Linked DNA regions of Homo sapiens. The protein of the gene in region 3 purifies or fractionates together with the protein of the main gene of each other region. This does not show direct contact. Each region holds a gene or a part of one and is shown on either strand. Other genes may lie near its edges. The genes, in order: CDKAL1, OGN, SLC28A3, RAB18 and ACBD3.

Evidence for each region.
Region 1: the proteins of SLC28A3 (region 3) and CDKAL1 purify together in Homo sapiens (affinity purification with mass spectrometry; one large-scale study listed by BioGRID and IntAct). This does not show direct contact.
Region 2: the proteins of SLC28A3 (region 3) and OGN purify together in Homo sapiens (pull-down; one study listed by IntAct). This does not show direct contact.
Region 4: the proteins of SLC28A3 (region 3) and RAB18 purify together in Homo sapiens (affinity purification with mass spectrometry; one large-scale study listed by BioGRID and IntAct). This does not show direct contact.
Region 5: the proteins of SLC28A3 (region 3) and ACBD3 purify together in Homo sapiens (affinity purification with mass spectrometry; one large-scale study listed by BioGRID and IntAct). This does not show direct contact.

The regions. Positions count from the first base shown.
Region 1 is NC_000006.12:20,547,010-20,552,563, reverse strand, and holds part of CDKAL1 (threonylcarbamoyladenosine tRNA methylthiotransferase), read right to left. Parts: intron 3,972-5,554; coding exon 3,859-3,971; intron 1-3,858. UniProt on the Homo sapiens protein: Catalyzes the methylthiolation of N6-threonylcarbamoyladenosine (t(6)A), leading to the formation of 2-methylthio-N6-threonylcarbamoyladenosine (ms(2)t(6)A) at position 37 in tRNAs that read codons beginning with adenine.
Region 2 is NC_000009.12:92,382,768-92,385,173, reverse strand, and holds the end of OGN (mimecan isoform 2 precursor), read left to right. Parts: 3' UTR 1-1,906; downstream 1,907-2,406. UniProt on the Homo sapiens protein: Induces bone formation in conjunction with TGF-beta-1 or TGF-beta-2.
Region 3 is NC_000009.12:84,274,048-84,279,502, forward strand, and holds the end of SLC28A3 (solute carrier family 28 member 3), read right to left. Parts: intron 5,339-5,455; coding exon 5,218-5,338; intron 4,353-5,217; exon of another isoform or gene 4,298-4,352; coding exon 4,171-4,297; 3' UTR 1,410-4,170; downstream 1-1,409. UniProt on the Homo sapiens protein: Sodium-dependent, pyrimidine- and purine-selective. Involved in the homeostasis of endogenous nucleosides.
Region 4 is NC_000010.11:27,527,115-27,532,018, forward strand, and holds part of RAB18 (ras-related protein Rab-18), read left to right. Parts: intron 1-4,414; coding exon of another isoform or gene 4,415-4,501; intron 4,502-4,904. UniProt on the Homo sapiens protein: The small GTPases Rab are key regulators of intracellular membrane trafficking, from the formation of transport vesicles to their fusion with membranes.
Region 5 is NC_000001.11:226,145,534-226,149,868, reverse strand, and holds part of ACBD3 (Golgi resident protein GCP60), read left to right. Parts: intron 1-1,800; exon of another isoform or gene 1,801-1,866; intron 1,867-3,047; coding exon 3,048-3,259; 3' UTR 3,260-4,335. UniProt on the Homo sapiens protein: Involved in the maintenance of Golgi structure by interacting with giantin, affecting protein transport between the endoplasmic reticulum and Golgi. Involved in hormone-induced steroid biosynthesis in testicular Leydig cells.

The DNA.
Region 1 (5,554 bases), on a different chromosome or scaffold from region 3:
AAACAAAATTAGGTGTGTAAAACAAAACCTAATATTCTTGTATAAACATACCAGGACTGTTATTTTATACAGACAAGTACTGTTACAAGACCAAACACAAACTGCTAATGGATTAAAATTTAATTAAAATGTATTAGATATTTAATATGACATAGAAAAAGTCAATATCTGATTTTCCTTATGTTTTAGGAAATTATCTCAGGGCCTTTTTTTTTTTGAGATAGGATCTCACTCTGTTGCCCAGGCTGAAGTGCTGTGCACAGAACAGCTCACTGCAGCCTCTACCTCTCAGGCTCAAGCGATCCTGCCACCTCATCCTCTCAAGTAACTGGGACTACAGGCAAAGACCAACACACCTGGCTACTTTTTAAATATTTTTGCAGGGCCAGGGTCTCACTATGTTGCCAACACTGGTCTCAAACTACTGGGCTCAAGCGACCCTCCCACCCTCTCTCACCTCGGCCTCCAAAGTGCTGGGATTACAGCAGGCATGAGCCAACACACCCAGCCTTTTTTTTTTTTTTTTCCTTAGGGTATTTTCTTAGCCAGGCACACAACTGTAGTCCCAGCTACTTGGGAGGCTGAGGTAGAAGGACCACTTGAGCCCAGGAGCTTGGGGCCAGCCTGGGCAAACATAGTGAGACCTGTCTCAAAAATAAATAAATATAAATCAATAAATAAATTCTATTTTCTTAATACTCAAACTACACCATCAGAATATGGTAAGGCAAGCCCAGGCTAAATTATACTAAAAATTACTAATGAATATAGAGAAGTAATTCTGAAAGCATATTTTGACCATTTTTAACTTAAAGGACAGAAATATTAAGACTCATTTTGCCATCTAAAGAATATGTTATAAAAAATACAAAATTAATAACATAAGGTATTTTAGGCCAGGCGCGGTGGCTCACACCTGTAATCCTAGCACTTGGGGAGGCCGAGGCGGGTGGATCACGAGGTCAAGGGATCGAGACCATCCTGGCTAACACGGTGAAACCCCGTCTCTACTAAAAAAATACAAAAAAATTAGCCAGGCATGGTGGTGGGCACCTGTAGTCCCAGCTACTCGAGAGGCTGAGGCAGGAGAACGACATGAACCCAGGAGGCGGAGCTTGCAGTGAGCTGAGATTGCACCACTACACTCCAGCCTGGGTGACAGAGCGAGACTCCGTCTCAAAAAAAAAAAAAAAGATATTTTAGTTACTGAAGGAAAAAGGGTGATACAAGGACTAGGTTTCCAATCCTCCTTAATCATTACATGCTGTCTTATAGCTAGGACTTGCCAATTACACATGCAAAGGCAGCCATGAGGTACAGAACAATGGTCAGGAGCAGTGTTTGGAAGTGACAAAGGACTTCACTGCATATGTGATTTAAGATAAGACGCAACCTCTCAGGCCGAGCACAGTGGCTCACGCCTGTAATCCCAGCACTTTGGGAGGCCAAGGCGAGTGGATCACGAGGTCAGGAGATTGAGACCATCCTGGCTAACACGGTGAAACTCTGTCTCTACTAAAAATATGAAAAATTAGCCAGGCATGGTGGCGGGCACCTGAAGTCCCAGCTACTCGGGAGGCTGAGCCAGGAGAATCCCTTGAACCGTGAGGCGGAGCTTGCTGTGGGCCAAGATCGCGCCACTGCACTCCAGCCTGGGAGACAGAGCAAGACTCTGTCTCAAAAAAAAAAAAAAAAAAAAAAAAGACACAACCTCTCCTTTCTCAACTGTAAAGTAGGGGTGCCAATATTTCCTCCTACTCAAGGACTAAGCAAGATAACATACATAAAGCACCGGGTCAGTGCCTGTCACAAAGCATTCGAATTATAGTTCCATTTAGTACACATAATAGATACAGAAATAGCTACAGATGCGTGCATATGTGTGGGTTACTATTCATACATAATTCCTAGCTCCATCCCCCAAGAGGACCTCACAACAGCGACACCTCACGGTGGCAACGAGCAAGCATATTGACTGCCCAGATCCCCTTTTCTAAATGCCATTCTCTTAATGAAAAAAATCAGGACTCCTTGGAAAACTGGTTGCTTCCAAGACTGGGGAAGGGAAAATATGAGAGATTAGAACATTTTGTGGTGCCAGGAAATAAAGAAGTGCTCAAAAAAAAGATGCCGGCATGCTGAAAAGACACAGGAGCCAGCCTGAACAAGATCCTAATGGCCAAGATTGGAACAACAAGCAGCATAATACATAATGATAGTATCAGACTATATCCACAGGATAAAATAAATATCCATGAGTCTGTACTGATAGAAATAACTAAGACGGGCCAGGTGCAGTGGCTCATGCCTGTAATCCCAGCACTTTGGGAGGCCAAGGCAGGTAAATCACCTGAGATCAAGAGGTCTAGACCAGCCTGGCTACCATGGCGAAACCCCATCTCTAAAAAATACAAAAAATTAGCCTGGTGTGGTGGCGCATGCCTGTAATCCCAGCTACTTGGGAGGCTGAGGCAGGAGAATCCCTTGAACCCCGGAGGCAGAGGTTGCAGTGAGCCGAGATCACAACACTGTACTCCAGCCTGGGCAACAAAGCGAGACTCTGTCTAAAAAAAAAAAATTTAATTAATTAATTAAGATGGAGAAGAATGGACAGCTCTTCCTTAGAGAAAAACTCCAATTAATAAATGTAAAGAGGAGGCTGGGCGCAGTGGCTCACACCTGTAATCCCCGCACTTTGGGAGGCCGAGGCGAGTGGATCACTTGAGCTGAGGAGTTCGAGACTAGCCTGGCCAACATGGTGAAACCCCGTATCTACTAAAAATACAAAAGTTAGCCAGGCATGGTGGCATATGCCTGTAATCCTAGCTACTTGGGAGGCTGAGGCAGAAGAATCGCTTGAACCTGGGAGGCAGAGGATGCAGTGAGCTGAGATCGTGCCACTGCACTCCAGAATGGGGCACAAAGAGACCCCATCTCAAAGTAAATAAATAAATAAATAAATAAATAAATAAATAAATAAATATAAATGTAAAGAAAACAAGATAGCAGAAAATCACCATTAAGTAAACACCACAGTAATAACTGTTGCAGACAAGATCCACCAGTAGATACTAAAATTAACAGGCCAAAGGTTGAGGAGAAATAGGATGTTTATTAGTTGTAATGAGAAAAACAGTGACTGTATTGGAAAGAAACCTAGCAGACATGGGTTAGTGTACCAGTATAAGACACACTGACATCATGACCCCGATATGACGCACTGAGAAAAATATAGTATCGCTTCTGTTCTCTGCTTGCCAAAAACCCAGAACCTCATTCTAATCATGAGAAAAAGACCAATTCAAGTTGAAGGACATTCTACATAATAATCATTTTCATCAGAAATATCAAGGAAATGTTTTCTTCAGAAGTGTCAAGGTCACAGAAGACAAGAAAAAATTAAGAAACTGTCACAGATTGGAGGAAACTAAGGGGACATGAAACTAAATGTAAGGTGGGACCCAACATTAGATCTTGGGACAGAAAAAGGAAGTTAATGGGAAAACTGGTAAAATTCAAATACGATCTACAGTTTAGATAACAGAAATGCACTAATGTTAATTTCCTGGTTTATTAATGATATTACAACTACGTAAGATGTTAATATCAAGGGAAGCTTGGTGATGGGCATATGTGAACTCTCTAATTTTACTACTTTTCTGAAAGTCTAAACTTATTTCAAAATAAAAAGTTTTTTTAAATATGACATCCATGGTTATCTACAAAATGTGTAATAACTATCTGTTTCACCTTAAAATCACTGTCATGCTAAAATACCCTTTAACTGCTAGGCTATTTATCTCTAAAAGCTTAATTCTGAAAAATTTAATCAATAAAATATATTATAGATCTCATTACCTGTAATTTTATAGCCATAAGCAGCTAGCTGTCCAGCCATATATTCTCCATCTGAATTATTATGAGAACAACCCCATGTTCGTATCCAAATTTTCTGTATGCCTGGAATAGTGCTGTTAAGGAATCAATAAAAAAAAAAAAGTAAGTTTCATTGAGTGATTTTTTTTTTTTTTGATCCAGGGTCTTGCTCTGTTGCCCAGGCTGCAGTGCAGCTGTGTGACCACAGCTCACTGCAACCTCAACCTCCCAGGCCTAAGGGATCCTCCCATCTCAGCCTCCCAAGTAGCTGGGACTACAGTCATGCACCAACACACCTGTTAATTTTTCTTATTTTTTGTAGAGACAGTGGCCCACTATACTGTCCAGGCTGATCTTGAACTCCTGGGCTCAAGTGATCCTCCCACCTTGTCTCCCAAAGTGCTGGAATTACAGGCATGAGCCACCACTACACCCAACCTCATTGAGTTATTTTTAAAATAAAAACCACTAGATGATTTTAAGATATATTACACAAAAAACAAACTCACTACAATCCATTCAAAAGCTATTCATTAAACGCACCAACTTAACTCAAAATCTGTTGTTGTATCAAAAGTCTAAAATCAAGATAAAATAACCACAGAATTCTAAAAAGTTAACACTCCACATAAAAAAATATCCTTTTTCTCTGAATTGCATTTTAAATTCATACTACTAACTTACTAAGTTCAACTCCTGGAAAGGTACACAAAAATAACAATAGGAAAGAAAGTGGTTCTAGCAGCAATGGCAAATAAAGAAAAGTATGTCTGTTTACAGATTCCTACATACTAGTTGCAATCTGTAGCTTCCTTAAAACTTACAGATATAAGTAACTTAATCAAAGTTAAAAACCGTCATCCTAAAGCATTATTAAAAGCACTCTATAAAATCAGAGTTCTAAAAATAACTTTTAGGGGAAAAAAGGACTTTCAACTTGGATTGCTCTAATAATTTATAAGTAAATAAAAATTACCTTAAGGACACATTTAGGACAAATTTTATAAACTTCAGTCATTAAAATATAAGCAAATTTTAAATTCCAAGAATTTAAAAGCTTAGTTTCCCAACAAAATAAGCAGATTATAAAGTTCAGCAGTTGACTAGATAAACAAATATAGGCTTATTAAAACCATATAATTACATTATCCTTTCTGGTTAGGTTGTATCAAAATTTCACGGACTAGAGATCTACTATAATAGCGTAAATAGGGCAATAATTTATTTGTGCCCACTGCCTTTACCTGATCCACAGGTATTTGAAAATCAGCTAAGAAAATTCAAATGTCCAAAATACTACTGTCTCATAAGAATCACAAACTCTGGTAAAAATTTTATTTGGAAATAACACAGACTTACATATCAACTACAGTAATACCCAAGAGATCCCTATTGCCCGAGGCTATCTTCTAGGAACATCCAATTTGACATCTCATTTCTTTTTAACCAATTACCTTGCCAAATTTAAAATCATTCAAATAAAAAAAAAATCTACATACAGGTTGAGTTTCTTTAATTCAAAAATTCAAAATCCACAATGCTCTAAAATCTGAAACTTTTTGAGTGCCAAAATGATACTCAAAGGATGCTCACTGGAGCATTTCAGATGTTTGGATTAGGAATACTCAACTGGAAAGTATGTAATGCAAATATTCCGAAATCCAAAAAAAAAAATGTG
Region 2 (2,406 bases), 8.1 Mb from region 3:
TTCTTCTTTTATGATTCATACGTTATTCCTTATAAAGTAAGAACTTTGTTTTCCTCCTATCAAGGCAGCTATTTTATTAAATTTTTCACTTAGTCTGAGAAATAGCAGATAGTCTCATATTTAGGAAAACTTTCCAAATAAAATAAATGTTATTCTCTGATAAAGAGCTAATACAGAAATGTTCAAGTTATTTTACTTTCTGGTAATGTCTTCAGTAAAATATTTTCTTTATCTAAATATTAACATTCTAAGTCTACCAAAAAAAGTTTTAAACTCAAGCAGGCCAAAACCAATATGCTTATAAGAAATAATGAAAAGTTCATCCATTTCTGATAAAGTTCTCTATGGCAAAGTCTTTCAAATACGAGATAACTGCAAAATATTTTCCTTTTATACTACAGAAATGAGAATCTCATCAATAAATTAGTTCAAGCATAAGATGAAAACAGAATATTCTGTGGTGCCAGTGCACACTACCTTCCCACCCATACACATCCATGTTCACTGTAACAAACTGAATATTCACAATAAAGCTTCTGAGTAACACTTTCTGATTACTCATGATAAACTGACATGGCTAACTGCAAGAATTAAATCTTCTATCTGAGAGTAATAATTTATGATGACTCAGTGGTGCCAGAGTAAAGTTTCTAAAATAACATTCCTCTCACTTGTACCCCACTAAAAGTATTAGACTACACATTACATTGAAGTTAAACACAAAATTATCAGTGTTTTAGAAACATGAGTCCGGACTGTGTAAGTAAAAGTACAAACATTATTTCCACCATAAAGTATGTATTGAAATCAAGTTGTCTCTGTGTACAGAATACATACTTATTCCCATTTTTAAGCATTTGCTTCTGTTTTCCCTACCTAGAATGTCAGATGTTTTTCAGTTATCTCCCCATTTGTCAAAGTTGACCTCAAGATAACATTTTTCATTAAAGCATCTGAGATCTAAGAACACAATTATTATTCTAACAATGATTATTAGCTCATTCACTTATTTTGATAACTAATGATCACAGCTATTATACTACTTTCTCGTTATTTTGTGTGCATGCCTCATTTCCCTGACTTAAACCTCACTGAGAGCGCAAAATGCAGCTTTATACTTTTTACTTTCAATTGCCTAGCACAATAGTGAGTACATTTGAATTGAATATATAATAAATATTGCAAAATAAAATCCATCTAAATAGAAGGGTTCTGTTTTATTTGGAAAAATTGAATCTTTAAACTATCATAATCTTGAATGACTGTCATCTTTCTAGTTTTCAGAAAAATAATGTATTCCTATATTATTTTTATGATAAAACTTATGGAGCAAAACACCATCAAATAACTCTCAAATTAAGAAAAAATTCAAAAGTCAGTAGTTTTAGATAAGATAATGATAAGGGAGAAAGAACATTGGTAAAAGGTATGAATTCCAGAATTAAAGAAATAATTTGGGGATTTCTAGATAAGAGGATATATATGAACATGCATACCTTACACCTTCATATACACAACCTTAAATCACAAATAAAACAAAATAAACAATACAAATTATACCACCAAGATTCAGAAGATATCAGACGAAATAATTAGAGAAAGTAAAAATATGCTGTCTCCATTATATTCATAATGTTTCATTCTTGACACTAATAATTAGAGGCTTTAAATTTTTAAATGATTTACTTTTTACTAACATTGCTGAAAAAAACTAAAGACATACATAAATGGAAAGATGTCTTGTGTTTATGGATGGTAAGATTTAATGTTGTTAAGACAACAATACTATCCAATATGATATGCAGACTGAACACAGTTGCCATCAAAATCTCAATGATGCTTTCACACAAATAAAATGGAACTTCAAGAGACCCCCAAATAAAGAGAAGAATCTTGAAAATAAGAATAAAGATAGAAGACTCACATTTCCTAACTTCAACATTTACAACAAAGATACAGTAATGAAAACAGTGTGTGGCTGGGCGCAATGGCTCACACCTGTAATCCCAGCACTTTGTGAGGCTGAGGCGGGTGGATTACTTGAGGTCAGGAGTTCGAGACCAGCCTGGCCAACATGGTTAAACTCTGTCTCTATTAAAAATTCCAAAAAATTAGCCGGGTGTGGTGGCGGGTGCCTGTAATCCCAGCTACTGGGAGGCTGAGGCAGGAGAATCGCTTGACCAGGAGGCGGAGGTTGCAGTGAGCCAAGATCGCATCACTGCACTCTAGCCTAGGCGACAGAGCAAGACTCTGTCTAAAAAAAAAAAAAAAAAAAAAAAAAGGAAAACAGTGTGGTACTAGCGTAAGTACAGACATATAGACCAACAGAATAAATTAAACAGCCCAGAAATAAACCCTTCCAAATAGGGTCAGATACTTTTCAACAAAAGTACAAAGACCATTCAG
Region 3 (5,455 bases):
CTTGGCCATAGTGATCTGTGGGTTTGCCAGTTCTGCATGACCAGAAGGTGGAAGGAGAGATGAAGCATTTCTGAATGACCTAAGGTTTTCCTATCCTCTTATTTTATGAATATTATTGGAAGCATGGCCAGTACTTGGAAGAGGTAGGCTCTAATTCTTTGTGTTCATATGGCTTGTAAGACTTCAGTTTTTTCCTAATCCTGGTTTCTCATGGCAAAGTGGTTGGTTGTCAGTGGCCAGAGGACTAAATTTCAAGGTTGTCACTTGAGTACTTTTCTCTGTTCTGTGGCTATAGGCTATATCCCTAATACCAGCCACTGTCCTTCCATTTTGCAAAATGCATAATGGTTAAGAAGGGCTGACTTGATGTAGGTTCACTGTTTAATCTCCAAAGTTTCCTGGAATGAAAATGCAAAGTAGCCCACTAATAAACAGGTTTAAAGTACTCATTCTATAACCAAGGAGCAGTCACATTGCCTTTGTGATATAAAGGAAAATATCATTGTCATCACAAGGTTGTGTAGTTTTTAGAGCTAGAAAAAGAAAAGTCTACGCTTTTCTTCCTGCTTGAGCTTAAAACAAAATTAAGTAACAGGCTGTAAAGAGCAGCCTTTCTTTGGACCATATGGTTCATTAGCACCACATGGTGTACCTGTACCAGAGACAGTTATTGAGTCCTACGCTCCTACCTTTGTAAAATGTGAGTGATTGCCTCCCCTTGCCCCACTCCCGTACAGTCAGGGTAACTTAATCCTTCCTGGCACACTGTGTCCTTGTTGGCTTATAATACCTTCTTTATAAGCATACTTGATTTTTGGAATTGTTCTGTAACTGGAAATCAGTCTTATTGGACAAGTGCACATCTTAAGCTGTTCACAGTGCCCTACCAGCCTAATTAAACTACAGAAATATGAAAGCAATCAAGTGGGAGCATTTGCAAAATGAATGCCTGTTAGTAATCTGCATAGTTACAGAGACTGTCACTTAGACCTAACTGCTGGGATATGTTGACTTTACCAATGGGAAGAAAAAAAAATCAGACAATGCTGTGTATCCCATGACTCAAATCTATTTTTGGCTGAGACCCTAAGGCCTCTCCAGGGTCAGAGAATTTGTTTATAACCAGTTTCTGGATTGCGAAGAGAAATATCATTTCTGCCCCTCTCCCTGTTTTTTGCAAACCAATAGAAAACAACACGGAGAATAAGCAGCAGTAAACTTCCATCTTCATTGAAATGAGGAAACACTCATATCTGGAACCATAATACTGTATACCAAAAGGGGCTTTCAGGTTAGCGAAAACTACCAGTGGGAAGACACAGGCGGCTAGGGGCTTTGGATTTCATGGGTGGACTGGACAGAGTACGGAGTTCTCCCAGGGAGATGTTGCAGCCCTGGCTTGAGGCAAGGTTGGGGAGCACAGACCAACAGCAACAATCTGTCAACAGTGAGCGGGCTCAAACAGCTGAAAAACATAGGCATGCCATCTTTGCCCACTATATGTACATGGGTGAAGGAGAAACTGGGGAAGACAAGCAGCCTCCAGCTTCTATGTCTACTAAAGAGGAATAAAAACATCACCATGCACCAAAAACCTCCATTAGGTTGTTTCACTGGGAGAAGGGCCACTTACGACGTTCACAGGGTATTGGTGAGGTTTCTGGGGGTAACAAGCTCAAGAGGCTTAACCAGCTCATTTTCCTGGTCCTTGGCCTTTACTATCCTCTTATAATATAGCTCAGGAATAACACCCCCTTTCTCAGTTCAAGGATGCACAGCATTAATAAGGAATCAACGTAGGACCTATGTGAACATGTTGCATTTATAAAGAAATGTCACACGTACACACAGAAAGGTCATATCAAAGCAGGTAAAAATTAAGACAACATATTTCTCCAAAAACCAGTCTGACATCTTATAATACCAGAAATATACACACACTTCAAACCTGGGAAATCATCCTATGAATCTGCTCTGACCAATATGGTAGCCACTAATACCTGAAATATGGAGTAACCAAGTAACAAATTTTTAAATTTAAAACTGATACTCATTTCAGTTATTGGAAAACTTTTAAGCACATTTAGACCAACATGGGTATGTAAATTTACTTTGCAAATTTAGATTTTATGAAATCTAAACATGGATTAAGTATTATCAGTAAAACTTTAGTGTCTCAACTGAGATATGCAAACCAGACAGACTTAGTTTCATAAGAATGAAAAATATCTTACTGAAATAATATCTCCAATGTATTGAGTTAAATATATTAAAATTAATTTTACTTGTTTTTTAGCGTGGCTACTAGATCTTAAATTACATGTGACTTGCATATGTCTATCAGACACTATTGCTATAGAAAAAAAAGCACCAGCATGCAAAGTAAATGTACATGCACTGTCCAGAGTAGGAAAAAGAGAACCCCCAAACCAAAACCTGTAAACAAAGTAAATGCATGTCCACAGAGGAATGGTATGATACATAAACATAACATTCTGTGGGGTATGATGAACCAGGACACCAAACATTGAGAATGGGGGGAAAACATGCAAATATATTTTCCTAAAATAAAGTCTGAAGACTGCAAGGGCACATTGAGCTCCAAGGAAAATTGATACAAATAATAAGAAATATTTTAGTATATCATACTTCAGGGATAAACAGTCCTCTGGACATTAGGCCTCCTCCTTCACCACCACAAAAAACAAAACACACAAAAAACCCCAACTATTTTCACATAGCTTTTTCTTTTAAATTACTCTTGTACACAAACAGAAGGAAAAATAGAAACAAAATAAATTACTTAAGGTATTTCAAAACCTTTTTCACATTCAGTGTCTGTTTCTTGACTTGGTAATTGATGTTTGTGTTTTCTCACAGCATGTGGTCTTCATGCTATTAAGAGCAGTGGTGATGGGCATTTCGTTAAAGAGCACACCACCATTGTCTCTGGAATCTTTTTCTTAGACACTGACACCCATTCTTCAAGTTTGATACTGATGCCATCCTGGTCAATGAAATTATCAACGCAAGGTTTTCAGAGCTCAACCAGGACTTTTTTTCCTCAACTGCTTCTTACACGGCTTTTGATTGAAGAGTAGCTGCTTTGTCACCAGGAATACATTACCAAATGTGCAGATGAATAGGCCTACCGTTATGGCCTACAACAGGATGGCTCCTTGAAGGGAGACATGGATATTATGTACCCTTATGGTGTATCATATTACTTCTGCAAAATATTCACTATCCCTCCCTATGACAGGATAATTTAACTGTGGTGACTGACATCGTGCCTGTCACAGGACTTGTTTTGGCTAATGGAATGTCATGGAAGTAAAGGGTATCATTTCCTAGCGGAAGATGAAAGAGCCATCATGTGGTTCCCACCTTTCTTTTCCCTCTTAAGACCAACATGCCCCCCTTAGAGGCTGCTCCTTTAGACTGGGTGCTGAAGCAATATGGATTACAACCAAGATGGATCATTACAAACATGTGAGTGAAAAATAAATCTGTAAGCCACTGAGGTTTTTGGGTTGTTTGTTTCTGTAGCGTAATTTATGGTTAAACTGACTGATAGAACTCTTAAGCAGAATGGATTTAAACCCTGGTTTTGGTATGATCCACGTGTTCTCCTCAAGGACTCTTGATTTCTGCAGGACTTCCTGAGGGTAGTCAATGAGTTGGTGATTGATGACTAGTTTTCCCTTATGTGAGATTCAAGTTCAGGCTATTTCAGGTAAGCCAAGGTATATGCAGAGTGACCTCACCTGAGATGTGCTTAAACTGAGTCACCCTGGACTACTTAGTGGACACTAAGTGGGTGTGGGTGAGTCAGAGCCCAGTTGTTGGGAGCGGCCGTTTATAGCTGTATTCTGGTGAAATGCCTTGCAAACATTAAAGTCAGAAAATCCCATTGAGACTGGAATCAACAACACCTCACTTTGGGACATCATAGCAGTTCTTGGTGGGGAAGGGGCTGGTGGGGAGGGAGGGGAGGAGGAAAATGTTGTAGCTTTGAAGGTCCACTCTTGTTTTTCTTCATTCCTTGCAATTAAAGCTGATTCCATTATGGAAGCATCAATCTGTGGACAATAGCTTCTTTTTTTTTTCTTTCCAAAGCAGAAAATTCAGCATCTGTACTTCAGAGTTCCACTGGAGAAGTGGCTGACCTCAAAATGTATTAGAGATCCCATTGCAGTTAAAGGTCGATGGATTCAACAATGTGCAGCAGCCCTTCAAAGAATACAGACTGTGGTTTCCTCCTGGGATGACTTCACCAGGACCCTTGGCAACAGTGCTGGTGGAAAGTGGAAAGAAACAGTTACATGAGCCATAGATGGCAGAAACAGTAGGTGAGCAGACAATGACATTAAAAATAGTTCAGGGCAGGAAGCTGATTTTCTTGCTCACATTCTGGTTAGGGTGGATTAAAGGACAGAGACACTGGGGAATTTGTTTTGGCTCCTAAATTCTGGGTGTCCTCAAGAACTTTCCCTATTTCCTCCATAACAAGCAAAGATAGGATAGAATCAATCCTTATAAAACACTTGCACATTAAGGATGGCACCTTGTGTGGGAACACTGATTTTGCAAATTAAAACTGTACAGGGTGGGGGTGGCTGGCATGGGTCACTGGTAGTTTCTTGTTCACCATAGACGATCATCGTGTTGTCTGGACAGCCTGGATCCCCTTGAAGGGGAGCCAGCAGAGGGTAGCAGTTAAGGGCATAGGCTTAGCAGGAAGATCAGCCTGAATTTTGTATCTCACTTGTACTTGTGCTAATTTTGCTGGAGTAGACATAGCTTCCCTAAGCCTTAATTTTGTGGAATGAAAAAAAAAAAAAAAAGATAGTGCCCAACTTATACAGTAGTTGCAAGGTTTAAGTGAGCTAATTCATACAAAGTGCGTAACACACAGCTGGGTGCATATTAAATGCTTGAGTAGCACTAGCTAGTGTTATAGTTGCTAGCCTTATCTGAGAAAAGTCAGAGTGAAAGGTGGTTAGAATCACTGCATAAGTTCTTACTTTTAAATAGAGTCATAAAGTTATAAAATTAAGTCGATGAGTGAGCGGAGATTGCGCCACTGCACTCCAGCCTGGGAGACAGAGCAAGACTCCGTCTCAAAAAAAAAAAAAAAAAAGTAAGTGGATATTTAGGTGTGATTTGATTGATTATTAATGGAGTATAAAGAAATTATAATCAAGAATACAATACCTGCTCAACAGACTTTGGCAACAAGCTATCACCTTGGTTGTGTTTCCAGGGAAAGTGGAGTTGAAGGCATTCTCTAAAACGTGATGGCAGTTGATGTCCACAGGAGTGCTGGAGAGTATGCCTAGAAGTGGAACAGAGTCCCATTTATTTATTATTTTTTAGTTTTATTTATGTATTTATATATTTATTTATTTAGAGACAGAGTCTTGCGCTTTTGCCCAGGCTAGAGTGTAGTGGC
Region 4 (4,904 bases), on a different chromosome or scaffold from region 3:
TCAAAACAGAACAGAATATTAAAAAATCATCTCATCTGCCAAAGAGAATCATAATTGGATATGTTTCTTTGAAGTTTTAAAAAGACCATCTAGACTGAACTAACACTAAAGACAATTTTTAAGGGGAGGAGGAATGACGTGATATTTAGGAAAAAATTTTATTTTTCTTGTTTGTTAGTATAGATATTTATAAAATTTGAGGTTTCAAACTTTGGGCTTATTTTTAATGCCTCGTTTTTCCTTACTGGCTTCTTTTCGTTTTCCTGTCAATCCAACCATTCTGATCCCCGTTACTGTACTAGCTAGACCGCTCATGCTAGTGTCAAATAAGGTAGCATTAACTGTCAAAAATATCCAAGATGCTTAGTGTCTATGTTTGTCTCTCTCTGTGTCTCCCTTTCATCAGTCTATTTACCCACCCACATACCGATCTATCTATATCTGTCTATCTAAATATGATCGGTTATATATATATATGTATATTCTAAATATATACTGTTTTATATATCTATTTTTCACATAGACTGTGATAATTATACATATATGTTTGTAATATAAGAAATCATATTAGAACTGATCAGTCATCAAATCGAGACTTATTTCCACATGGTGGTTAAATGGTAAATGCTGTTTGTACATCAGTCACAGATTGAAAACAGCAAGTGTTCATGCATTGTATGATGTCATATTTCTTGGCATTCTCTGAATGGCACACTGTTTCTAATACACATTTATCCCCAAATAACAAATAATTGTGTAAGTGTGTTTAATGTTTTTATGTCAGTTTTTCCTAACATACAATACTTTAAATTTGTTAACCTGTTTGCCCCTTTCCCCCAAATATGTTTAATATCAATCAGAACGGTAATGTCTAACAGAAAACAATTTGGAAAATGTTGGACTAGAGTATGGTAAAATGTGTTGAACGATATAAGAATGTTGGCTTTTTCCATACTAAAGTGGGGGCCTGATTTCCATATGCTTTTCATGGTTAATTTATTATCCCTTTCCGGCCTTGCTGCTGCTTTGTGAAATCCGTAGATTAGAGTAGTATCTGAGACTTGCTGGTTGCAGTGAGATTTTTCTCTCATAGTTTCGTTTTGTTTTAAATTTATTTTCTAGTTCCTGCCTAATAAAAAGGCTGGCAGGTATTATTGAAGAGACATTTTTACCATAGGCCTATAAACATTTTTTAAAGAAGAGAGGTTTTCCCCCTGGCTGTAAGAATAATACAGGGTCATTCTAAAAGGGATAATTGAGACAATAAGAAGAGCAGAGAAGAACATCTATAAAAGTATACCACTGAATACATTTTAGTGAGCATTCTTTAAAATATCAAGGGATATGTATACATACCACTATACATACCAGTATGTGAGTTTTCCAAAACAAAGGGATTATATTATATCTTACATTTTTAAACCTGTTTGTCCTCCTTTCCTACCACCTCACCCCCACTCATAGTATGTGCTGTATCCGTTTAGATGGCCAGCTAGTATTCCGTTTCATAGCTGTACTTTAGTCAGCCTTCAGTGAGAGATACTTACATTTTTGCCAGCTTTTCACAAAGATTACAGCTCTTTGAGCATCCTGATTTATACGTCTGTGTGTACTTGTCCAGTTACTTTAGAATGTGTAGCTGGAAGTAGAAATGAATATGAAGTCTTCACATTAATGTACACCAAAAAGCCTTTTTTTTCAGTTTATACTCCCACCAATTGTATTCATATTCATTCTGCCACATCCTTATCTCTACTGTTATCATTCTTTCTGTTTTTGCCTCTGAGTGTTGCTGTTTTACTTATATTTGCATTTCTTTTGATAAGAGATTTTTGCCTGTTTATTGATCATTTTAAAAAATAAGTTTTCTTTTTACATATTTTACCCATTTTATACGTTAGCATTCATCTTTTTCTTCATTAAAGTCTTTATATAATAAAATTATTAGCTCTTTGTCATGTGGTACAATTTTCTAAGCTATCATTTGCCTTTAAAATCATGTATCAGTTGAATATATGTTTGTGTTCTTGTGTGTGTGTGTAATACTGCCATATGCTACAGATTTTTTTTTCCAGTTTGTCATTTACCTTCCAATATTGTTAAGGATGAATATGGGGATGGGGAGGTGAAGAGGAGGTAAAGGGTGTTCTTGTCATTTCAAGGTTTTAATATTTATATGGTTGGATCAGCTATTTTCATCATGGCATTTGGGTGTAACGTATTTAGGAAGGCGTTTCCTCTGTATTAGAAATATATGAATCCATAGTTGCCTAATTCTTCTATAGTTTTATTTATAAAATGAGTTTCTCTCCTACTTGGAAGCTTCTTCTAGGATGAAATAGAATAATTAAGCATAGCCCTGCCCCTCCTACCTCCTGAAAGTGCATACTCATCATGACCTTGTTTTCTTCTACTGCCTTTTCCTATGTCCTTGCTTCACTTTCACTCCCTACATCTATTATTAAGCCTTTCTAGATCTTTCCTAGCCCTGAGTTTATCTATATATCTTTCAGTAATTTCTTCTCTCCTTCCCCCATCAGAAAATAAAACTACAGGATAGAGACAAAAAGCTGTGCTTCATTTATCTTACAAAGATGTTATTATACCTACCACATATTCCTGTTTTGAAAACAAACACAAGCAACAATCTAACTTCTATTTAAGCATATACACTTTATAGTTACTATAAATCCTGATGCGATGCTATTGCACATGGTTCCCTCCACCCCCTAAATTATAACACCTATTTAAACACTTTTGTAAGTGAATCCAAAAATGGCAAGCCTCTAAACATCTGGCCTAATTATTAATAAATATTCACAAGCAAAGTTTCAAAGTCAAGTGTAATATTTCAACATTAAAACTTTCTTGCTATGGTTTTTACTTTTAAAACATCAGGATTTATGGATATTTTAACTGGAATTGCAGTTCTGATTTTTATGTTGTGTTTCATTAAGGCAGTTTTTGAAGTTGATCTCAATGAAGACCAGAGAGAACAAAGTTCATGTTCACTTGTTTTTCTGCCAGCTCTGGAAGTTATGGATACAGTTTCCTTATGCAAATAGAATAAACTTTCTTCCTGTTATCAAAAAGTCTTGGGGCTAAAATATTTCATACTTGGTCCTTGCCTCAAACTATTTGTTATGAATATAGAACAGTGTTCCATGTATGGAAAAATAGCTGCTTCTTAAATTTCCAAATTCACTAATTCACTGTATAGAAAAATAGCTGCTTCTTAAATTTCCAAATTCAGTAATTCACTGTTCCAAATCCAAGGCTTGTCTTTTCAGTAATGGCTTTTCCTTCTTTTTTTTTTTTCTTTCTCTCTAAAACAGATAGTCTGTACTACTAAAAGTTAAATGCTTAACATGGTGCAGTTCTCAAAGTTATAATGTATCTGGATACTGAATAATTTGAATATTACTAATTTGTCATTTTTTGCATGTAAGCAGATAGCTAGGATACGTTCTCATAATGATTTGTCATTTAAAAATATACATTTTTTATTGAGTATGAATCAGATTGTCTGAAATAGGTACTAGTACAAGGCTATGAAGAGCATTTCTAGTTTCTTATTATATATATTACCAATTGCTTCCTAAAAGTGGTGACACTTTTACTGATACACATAGTAATCATTTTACTATGATATGCATAGTAGTTACATCTTTTGGCTTCTAGTTGATTACTTTTTTTTTCCCTGCAAATTTGGGTTTTGATTACTTGAGCATAGTGATCAAAAAAGATCACTGGGCATCCATATACCGTTTCATTAATGATTAATGGACTACAATATTGACTTGTCTCATGTTATCAAAGTTATAATCTGCTTTATATAGCAAGTTCACTTTGCTTTAAACAGCTTTTAATTTATATTATTGTTCTTGAAAAGGTGAGTAAATATGCAAATTGAATAATTTTAAAATCCAAGGCAGGTTTTGTAAGAAACTTAGAGGCAGAGAGAATTTTTGTAAAGAGAAAAATTATTTATTTTATAAATTTATCTGTTCAGAACATTTACTTTAAATCTGTTAATTCTTCACTTAAGCATGGCAGGGTGGGGATTAGTTTCTGTGGTGGTAAGGATCTGGAAGGAAAGGCTTTCAAATTTATGTAAGTGTATCTGTGGAAGAGTGGTGAATGTTCAAAGTGGTTTACATTGAAACGTTACTTTCCTCTTAAGTTTCTCTTCTGGGGTTATAAATGACTGCAGATCCTCCCTACTGTCTTGCTGAAGCCCCTCACGCCCCTGGTTTGAATTCTTCTCCAATCTTATAAACCTCTTACAGGTTATTCTAACATTTTTATATCTGGGGGAGCTTCTGCTTGTCCCATAACAAACCCTCATTTACAGCAGTGGGACTGGTAGCTAAGTTGAGGTTTGATACATGTTTTTACTTTTACTTTTCTTTAGGTTACTTTGCATCAGCAGACTGCAAACTTTTTCTTAAAGAGCCAGATAGGAAATAGTCCAATCCTGAAGTGGGCCATGTGGCAATACGTAAGCAAATAGGCCTGCTGTGTTTCAATAAAACTTTATTTAATAAAACAGGTGGTGGGCTGAGCTGCTTTGTATAATCTTAGGTACCTTGAATCCATAGTCCAAGGATGGTAGAAAGACAAGAGAGAGAAGGAATTGGGCCCGGAAGTAAAGGCTTGTTAAATAGGTTCATTCTTTTTTTTTTTTCTCAACAAATTCTGAGCAACTGCCTTTTTTCAAGAATTGGTCTCAGCACAATGGTTAAACTGGTGATTAAACAGATGAGTCCCTGCTTTATGAAATTTACATTTTCTACCTAGTGTACATTGTTCACTAACCCTAACATGAGTCAGAAATAACATGTAATAAAGAATGGCTTGGTTATATGCATTTTCTCAAAAGGAGATACATAGAAAACACTTAA
Region 5 (4,335 bases), on a different chromosome or scaffold from region 3:
TTACTGTACTTACAAAGAGCTTTGTGAGGCCAGGCACGGTGGCCCCTGCCTGTAATCTCAGCACTTTGGGAGGCCAAAGCGGATGGATTGCTAGAGCTCAGGAGTTCAAGACCAGCCTGGGCAACATGATGAAACCCTGTCTCTACCAAAAATACAAAAAACTAGCTGGGTGTGATGGTGTGCACCTGTAGTCCCAGCTACTTGGGAGGCTGAGGTGGGAAAATTGCTTGAGCCCAGGAGGTAGAGGTTGCAGTGAGCTGAGATCAAGTCACTTCACTCCAGCCTGGGCCACAGAGCCAGACCCCATCTCAAAAAAAAAAAAAAAAAAAAAAAAAAAAAGATGGCTGGGCGCAGTGGCTGACACCTGTAATCCCAGCACTTTGGGAGCCTGAGGTGGGTGAATCACCTGAGGTCAGGAGTTCAAGACCAGCCTGGCCAACATGGTGAAACCCCATCTCTACTAAAAGTACAAAAATTAGCCAGGCATGGTGGCACATGCCTGTAATCCCAGCTACTTGGGAGACTGAGGCAGGAGAATCGCTTGAACCCGGGAGGTGGAGATTGCAGTGAGCTGAGATCGTGCCATTGCACTCCAGCCTGGGCGACAGAGCCAGACTCCGTCTCAAAAAAAAAAAAAAATGAAAGAGCTTTGTGAATAAGAATTCTCTGTTCAGAAGTTGGTTGAGGTAATGTATTTCTCCTGGCTTGCCTATTAGAGAGCTTCTAAAAGGTGGTTACTGCCTAGTCTGAACCCTCAGCTGATGATAGTTTTGGGGTTATATTGGTGTTGGGAAGATCACTAGTGAAAATGGCAGGGGTTCATTTCTAGAGGTAAGAACCTTAATATCCTTGATCTTAGTTCTAATATGTCCCTCAAATGAAAGATGGCATTCCCTGTACTTGTACCATTCCTAATCATAAAATGATTTGCAGCTAAAACATTTTAGCCTCACAGCAGTGAAGCTTTATCATTCCTAAGAATTGTTCATTACATGAGCGTCACTTCATCCCATTTAAAGATTTAGCTCACAAATTGTATTTGTCCATATGCCTTAGAAGCTACTGTCCTACCGTGTCTTGTATTTCATATGGTAGAAGAGTCTGAGTTTTTTGGGTTTTGGTTTGGTTTTTCTTCCTTAGGTCTTGAAAGGTAGACAGAGGAGTTTGCTTTCTCTGAAGAAGCATGGATGGTAACACATCCTCCTGTTTTAATTCTCCATTTTCTTCATTGTTTACAGGTCCTAAACCTTGGCTTAAATTCATAAAAGATGCCTTTTCATCTATCCCAGTAATCTTTAGTTTTATAGATTTAAAACAAAATTTGAGTCTTGAATCAATGGACCAGTCTATTTCTTGGATGTCAACAATAGTGTACATTTTGGATGGTTCTGTATTTCTCATTTGCATGTGAAACATGCTTAATTATAGGTATTTCTGTGGTTAAGTAAATCTGGTTTTGACCTACCTTTATAAGAGTGCCATCTGCTTTTTTAAAATAAACTTTTAATTTTAGAATAGTTTTAGATTTACAGAAAAGTTACAAAGATAGCACAAAGAGTACCCATATACCCTGCACCAAGTTCCCTCTGTTGTTAGCATCTTACATTGTACTGTGGTGCACTCATCACAGCTAATGAAACAATATTGATACATTGATTCATTAATTAACTAAAGTCCATATTTATTCAGATGTTTTTAGTTTTTACCTAATGTTCCAAGATCCTTTCCAGGATGCCACATTATAGTCAGTCATCATATCTCCTTAATCTGCTATAGACGGTGAGAATTTCTCAAACTTACCTTGTTTTAAATTCCTGATAGTGGCCATTGACAAGCATCACTCAGTGTGTTGCCAGAATTCACTCTGCCATGTTATAAACCTGAAAATCCATGCCTGTAGTCCCAGTCTCTTAAACAAACAAACAAACAAAAACAACAACCATAAACCCGAAAGTCTTGTCTTCTGTGCTGAATACTCCCTTGACCTCTTTGAGCTGGTTTGTATTAAATATGTTAAACTGTGACTTCGAAGCTGGTTCATAATTTTCTCATTCCTGTAGGTTTCTAGAGGCATTTTTTTTCCTAACCTCATAGCATTACAGTTCAAAAAACTCTTAACCGGGGCAAACCTTTCAGAGCCCATTTTTTGCCACTTAGATCATCTCTGGGTTAAATTGGCCTAGTGAAAATAATTGAATTTTCAGAGTATCTCTGAATGCCTATCTCTCTACTATGATTTTTTCATTTTACTGCTTATATTTAAGATATACAGAAAGCAATAGTCCTCACAAATCATCTTCCATCTTTCTAAAATGGGGAGGACTCATATTGGTCAGAAGGAGGATGATGAGAGCAACATTTTCATGTTACTCAGATGAGTGAAATTCCTGAGGATGAATTAGGAATTGAATGGCTATGGAAAGGGGAAAATGGGACCTTGAAATAGGAATGGTAGTAAGCACAGAAAGAGATAGGATGCTGACCACTGCTACCACTAGATGTTCATCACTGGGCTCCCAGGGCTCAGAACAGGGTTTGGTGTATAGCACATACTTAGGTATTTGAATGAATGAGTGAATGAATGAATGAATGAACGAACTAATAAATGCTCACATGCACATAACTTGTTAAATGGTTCAACAGAATTCCCAACAAGAGCAGTTTCTCAAAGAAAGGATAGGCTGGGCACGGTGGCTCACGCCTGTAATCCCAGCACTTTGGGAGGCCGAGGCAGGTGGGTCACAAGGTCAGGAGATTGAGACAATCCTGGCCAACATGGTGAAAGTCCATGTCTACTAAAAATACAAAAATTACCTGGATGTAGTGGTGCACGCCTGTAATCCCAGCTACTTGGGAAGCTGAGGCAGGAGAATCGCTTGCACCCAGGAGGTGGAGGTTGCAATGAGCTGAGATCACGCCGCTGCACTCCATCCTGGGTGACAGAGCAAGACTCTGTCTCCAGAAAAAAAAGAAAGGATAGATTTTAATTGCCTGATGCAAGTGTGGTTTTCCTGAATCTGTTCATTGACTTGTCTCTGTTCTTACAGAAAACATCGGTTGTGAAGAGAAAGCCAAAAAGAATGCCAACAAGCCTTTGCTGGATGAGATTGTGCCTGTGTACCGACGGGACTGTCATGAGGAGGTGTATGCTGGCAGCCATCAATATCCAGGGAGAGGAGTCTATCTCCTCAAGTTTGACAACTCCTACTCTTTGTGGCGGTCAAAATCAGTCTACTACAGAGTCTATTATACTAGATAAAAATGTTGTTACAAAGTCTGGAGTCTAGGGTTGGGCAGAAGATGACATTTAATTTGGAAATTTCTTTTTACTTTTGTGGAGCATTAGAGTCACAGTTTACCTTATTGATATTGGTCTGATGGTTTGTGAACTCTTGCTGGGAATCAAAATTTCCTTGAGACTCTTTAGCATTCATACTTTGGGGTTAAAGGAGATTCCTCAGACTCATCCAGCCCTTGGGTGCTGACCAGCAGAGTCACTAGTGGATGCTGAAGTTACATGAGCTACATGTTAAATATTTAAAGTCTCCAAAATAAAACACCCCAACGTTGACCTTACCCGGCTGATGGTTAGCCCCTTGCTGCCTGCTCCATGTGTCTTATGAGAGCCCGTAGTTACAGTGTCCTCTAATTTGAAATCCATAAGTTAACAAGTCTATATCAGGTGCAGCTGGCTTTGATTAAAGGCCATTTTTAAAACTTAAAAACTCAACACCTCACAGATTATAATAGAAAAAGAAATGGCCTCAGTTTGATCTCGTTCAGAATGACCCAGATTGTTTCTGCTTTGGGTGCAGCTGTTTAGTTCAGAGTTATATTACAGAGAATTATTTTCTGAGATAATCTTAAACTAGAATGTTCAAAACTAATTGATAATTGAAGTATCAAGATACGTAGAACACCTCAGAGATTTTTCTTCAGGAACTTCCACAAACTTTGAATCCTTGTATCTTTATTTGGTATTCATACTACTAGTAGCAAAATACAGGTTTTTTGTTTTGTTTTGTTTTGTTTTGGCTTCATAGAGTATCTCAAATTGAAACTTTTCTGCACAAAGAATAAAATTAAGGATTTTATAAACTCAAATTGGCACCTACTGAATTAAAATACATAAAATCATTTAAATATAATTCAGCATATGGGAAGTAACATTGCACTAATATGGAAATCACTGCCAGAGACAGTCTATTTTCTTTTAATTTGTTACTACTTAGTCACAAACCCCACATTATTCCAGTTTGGAATTACTTATTAAGGAGAATTGGAAATACATATGCCCATGCTTAAATTTTATAGCTTTAATTTGTGTTATTTCTT